2 separate regions of the Homo sapiens genome follow, and region 1 is linked to region 2. A link means that fine-mapping ties the variant in region 2 to the expression of a gene that starts in the linked region. Tissue or cell type: cerebellum. Region 2 holds a variant in brackets; the other region holds the start of a gene. All regions are shown on one strand. Distances are between the middles of the regions.

What was found. PIP is the estimated chance that this variant, and not a neighbour inherited with it, causes the effect.
Region 1: it holds the start of SLC22A14, and the variant in region 2 is fine-mapped to the expression of SLC22A14 in cerebellum (GTEx, PIP 0.95).

Annotation. Positions count from the first base shown.
Region 1 is chr3:38,280,744-38,283,428 of GRCh38, reverse strand. It overlaps SLC22A14 (solute carrier family 22 member 14), which reads right to left and starts at 1,135. Exons shown (of 11, transcript NM_001320033.2): 1 at 1,090-1,135.
Region 2 is chr3:38,209,788-38,212,472 of GRCh38, reverse strand. All of the region lies in intron 4 of OXSR1 (oxidative stress responsive kinase 1), which reads right to left. Among named protein-coding and RNA genes, the nearest start is that of OXSR1, 46 kb to the right of the region's middle. RefSeq lists a silencer at 2,033-2,142. The variant C/T (reference allele first, on the strand shown) is at 1,558.

The DNA of each region.
Region 1 (2,685 bases), 71 kb before region 2:
TTGGAGGTGCATAAGAGGCAGGGAACACAGAGGGAGAGCATGCTTAGATGTGTGTGTGCTGGGAGGTGGGGGAGGCTGCATAAGCGCCCCCCGGAGAGATCTATGCCTAATCCTCAGAACTCGTAAATATGTTTCCTTACATGGCAAGGGGGGTTAAAGTTACAGATGAAGTTAAGGTTACTACTTAGCTGACTTTAAAATAGATTATCCTGGATTGTCAGGTAGGTCCCATTAATCCCAGGATCCTTAAATGCATAAGACCCAAAGAAATGCAGCGTGATAAAGATTTGGGCAGCCGTCGGTGGCTTTGAAGATGCAAGGGGTCCCAGAGCCAAGGAATGCAGGAGGCTCTAGAAGCTGGAAAAGGCAAGGAAGGAAATGAGCTCTGCCCTAGAGCCTCCAGAAAGGAAGGCAATCCTTCTGAGACCTTGATCTTAGCCTGCTGAGGCCCATTTGTTCTTCTGACCTCCAAAACCATAAGGTAATAAGTCTCTGCTGTTTCAAGCCACTAAGTGTGGGCATTTGTTATAGCAGCAATAGGAAACCAATACAGGATGTATGTGTGTAAGGCTGGAGAGGGTGGAGGTGGATAAAGGAGACTTTCCAGGGAGGGAGAGCCTCCGCTGTCCTCTCAGAGATGTGGCTTCTGGACCAGAGCCATCTGTACCAGCCTCCCTCTGCAGGGACCGCTTCAGCATCCCCCAGCACCACCTGATACCCCAATACCCTGGAGCACTCACTCCCTCTACTCATCCCAAAGGTCCTCTGCCAGGTGGACAGGCCCCAGGCAATTGGCTCTCAATGTGCCAAAGAGGTAACTGAGGCCTGGGAGAAGCATAGCCAGGAGGAGCACTCCACCTGCCGCAGGAGATGGCCAGACGCCACACCTGAGAACTCACGCTTTCTGGGAGGGCAGCCCGCTCCTTCCACAGATTCCCCACAGCCAAACAGGCCCAGGCAGGCTCCTGTCCACACCTGTGCTGAGAACGCGGCCGCAAAATTGCCAGGGGTCATCATAATTTCTACTCTCCACACCCTCCCGGCCCTGCCTCCCTGTAGGCAGGACCGCAAGCCAAAGCCAGGGCCCACCTGACCACAATCCAGGCCCAGCCAGACCCTTGGAAGCAGAACCTTTGAGCTCCACTGGTGTCCAGGAAGTAGTGTCACAATGGGGTGGGGAGGTCCTTGGGGTGAGCTGGGAATGGTGAGGGTCAGCATTCTACTCCAGGGACACAACTGGCTGTAGCCTCCAGGGGCAAGGCAGGTCAGGAAAACTGCCACACGAACCCCCCTGCCCCTGTCTTTGTGCAGGCTGTTTCCTCCACACGAGGGCTCCACCTCCACTCTCGGAAATTCTCCTGTCCTTCCAGATATCACTCATTTATCAACTATCCTTCAAGCCTTCCTGAGCCCACAGCTGGAAATGGCTTGGCCCTACCCCACTCACTTCTGCTCTGTCTCTCCGTGACACTCCCCTGCCAACCAGCCTTGGTCAGAGCTGCCGGGGTCTGACCCATCTCCCCCATAAGCTAGAAGCCTCCTCTGCCAGATTGCAGGAACAGGGCTTCAAGCTTCATGCTTGGGGGAAGGGAGGCCAAAGTGGCAGGACAGGAAAACCAGCACAGGGCCTAGTACAAGGCAGACCATCCTTGTACCAGTACAGCATGTACTTAGGACCTCAACAAAATTAGAGCATTGCTATGGCTTAATATTTGTCCTCTCCAAAACTCATGTTGAAACTTCATCTCCAGTGTGGTAGCGTGATGGGGCCTTTAAGATGTAATTGGGTCATGAGTGTAATCTGTTAATCCATGAATCACCAATCATGGATTAGTAGATTAATGGGTTAATGAGTTATGAGAATGGGACTGGTGACTTTATAACAAGAGGAAGAAAGACAAGCTAGCTTGCTCGGTTCCCTCACCTGTGCCCCCTTGGGAGACTGCAGAGTTCCCAACAGCAAGAAGGCCCTTACCAGATGTATTCCCTAAACCTTGGACTTCCCAGCCTCCAGAACTGTAAGAAATAAATTTCTTTTCTTTATAAATAACTCAGTTTCAAGCAGTCTGTTATAAGCAACAGAAAATGGACTAACACAGACACTTAAGACACAAAAAAAAATTAAAAGAATTTCATATATTTGAAAAAAAATGAAGTATTGATCACAGGGAAACCTACTTACAGCTCTTTTGCAGTTTCCTATGGCTCAATCTTCACTTGTTTGGGGGCAGGGCACTGCAATCTTATTGGTATCTGGGGCATCAGATCCTTCCTCTTTCACCAGACCTCCCTCGGGGTGTCTGCAGGTCACCTCAGTGGTTGGTCCTAGGCCCCTCATCCCCCCTAGAGTTCCCCACTCTTGAGCAGCAGCACTCTGGGGGTCAAAGGGACCAAGCAGACAGCACAGTGAGCACCCAGAAGCCATCAGTGAGACTGAAGAGCAGGGTGGGAGCACCCCTTTGTTTTGGTTTGTTTTGGTTACATAAGATCCCAGAACTCGGCTGGGCATGGTGGCTCACGCCTGTAATCCCAGCACTTTGGGAGGCTGAGGCAGACGGATCACCTGAGGTCAGGAGTTCAAGACCAGCCTGGCCAACATGGCAAAACCCTGTCTCTACTAAAAATACAAAAATTAGCCTGGCGCAGTGGCGCACACCTGTAATCCCAGTTACTCGGGAAGCTGAG
Region 2 (2,685 bases):
AGCCTCTCTAATGGGAAAAATATTTGGGTAGATACAGAGAGAAAAGTCTGATTTAGAGACCCATTCATCCTACTCAAAACCTCTAAATCCTAGAAGTCAAAGAGGAAACACAGTAGAGACAGAGGAAAATTACTTTACCTAATCCACTAGGCTGACATACAAATCCACTTGAAATCACAAATGGACTTTGAAGATACGAGAAGTAGCAAGACATCCTAAAAATATCTGCCTCTGCTTCCCAATGAAACAACTTTCTCCTAAGCCTAGGTCTCAGTGTATTACAGAGCTGGTTACTGCTAAAGTCTAAGTAATAGTCTCAGACTTGGCTGCATATTAGAATTACCCAGGGAACTTTTAAAAGTCCCAATGCCAAGGCCTCATTCCAAACCAATTAAATAAATTTCTGACAGTGGACCCAGGTATCAAAACTTCTTAAAGCTTCCCATATTCCAATATGCAGCCCAGGCTGAAAGTCTACGATTTAAAGTGTCAGAGAATTCCCATTCCAGCTAAATGGCGAATGCTGCGTTGGAAAACAAACTTTCATCACTACTATACAGGCCCTTGACCCAAAACACACCCTTCCCTTGCTACAAACACAAAGAGATGCTGGATAAATTAGGGGGAAAATACCACACAGCTAGATGCAAAGTAAGGAAAAAATTCTCAAGGTTCAGAAATGAAAGAGACACTTAAGAGGCAGAGCAGTAGGTAAGAAGACCTGGGAGACAGAAGAGGGAAACTGGCCAAATGGCTAGGGGGCTCAGGTTTTCAAATCCACAGGTAATAGAAAACATGGCACTGGGCTGATATAAGGTTAGGAGCTAAAACTAAAACTCCCTAAATAAAACCAAGACCCTTGAAAGACTAGGCCACAATGAAAGATATGCTTACCAAAGGTTAGACAGGATAGCTATATTAAAATAAGATCTTAATTATCTTTATAAAACATTTAAGACCTAATTGTCTTTACAACAAATAAGATCTATCTTTAAAACAAAAACATTTCTAGGAGTAAAAAGGTCACTTTATAGGAGTAAAAAAGTCATTTTATAGGAACAAAAGGAATAATTCACCAGGAAAATAACAATCCTGAACCTGTATGTACCTATAACATCTATCACAGTGTTCAAAGGAGTCATTAGGGTTATAGGGGTTCCTGGGACCGTGCCACAGAGAGCTGGACAGGTTCCAATGCAACCTGATACTTAGAGTCCCGCTCAAAGGATGCTGATTTGCAGGTTAGCTGATATGAAGGACCAGACAGAATGCCCAAGTGAGGTACATACTGTCTAATGCCCAACGAGCCCAAATAGTGCTAGGCCTCCTTTTTGGTGGTGTGGTGAGGGTAGCAGAGGGTCAAAGAGACAGCAGTTTTTCCTCAACTGTCAAAGGGACTAAACATTGTGAATCTGCCCAAATAGTCCCATGAAAGTTTATTTGGCAAGCAGGCCTTTGAATTTTGTTGCATCTATCAACTACCCCTGCTGGCAAAGATGTAATAATAGTGCAAATCAGGGCCACTATCTTGTTAATAAACAGGACATCAAGAGATCA[C/T]CTATACAGGAAAAGCTTTGGACATCAGAAGGTAAAAGAATTTTAAGATTTAATCTTATCCAGTTCAATATGTAATGAGCTTGTCACTTCTGTCTTCACAACAGGAAAAAAGTCTGAAAATCAACAACTCTTCTTAGATCCATCAGAGACTGAGGTCACAGGGCAAACACCTGCCTCCAAAAATGTAGACAGGAAGATAGAATTACAGTTTAATGGAGCAGATGCCCAGCAGCAGAAGACTATTGCTGGAGTCAGTACTGGGGTATAAAAACTTAAATTGTAGTTGACAAATGTCTGGAGGCTCAGTGTGGAACAGCTTGAGAGTTAAAAACCCCAAGCAGACCCAGTCTAAGGGAGACTCATACACTTGGATGAGCTGGATGAGCTTTACCTCCTACAGCCCCATGAGATTCTCGGGGTATAGACAGGAGAAAATTCCCCTAATTTCCCACAGGAGGAAGAAAAAAGTAACCAATTTGAAATATGCCCTAAGCATTCTATTCTCCTAAACAAAAACCTACCCTCAAGGGAAACTATTTTATCAGAGCTTAACCACCTTGGTTTTACCAGAACCTAACCCATCTACGGGAAGGGAAATACCCAGTCTCAGTCCCATCAAGCCTTCCTGTCTCACCTTGGGGGGGAACTGAGAAGCACTTGTGCAGTTGATAGCCCAGGAGCACAGGCTCACTAAAAAGACTGAGCTGGGTAAGGGAGACAAAAATATTGATAGATGTCAGAGGAAAAAGAACACCTTACCTATAGAGGAACAAAGGTATGAATTAACATCCCACATCTCAGAAACCATGCAATCAAGCAGAGTGGAGTGAACTGTTTAAAGTGTCAAGAGGAAAAAAAAAAAACCAACCTAGAATCCTGTATCCAGCAAAATTATCCTTCAAAAGTAAAGAAGTACTTCTCTCAGACAAATAAAAACTGAGGGACTTTGCAGTGAGCAGACCTGCCTTGCAAGAAATGTTAAAAGAACTTCTTGGCCGGGGCACGGTGGCTCACGCCTGTAATCCCAGCACTTTGGGAGGCTGAGGCGGGTGGATCACGAGGTCAGGAGATTGAGACCATCCTGGCTAACGGGTGAAACCCCGTCTCTACCAAAAATACAAAAAATTA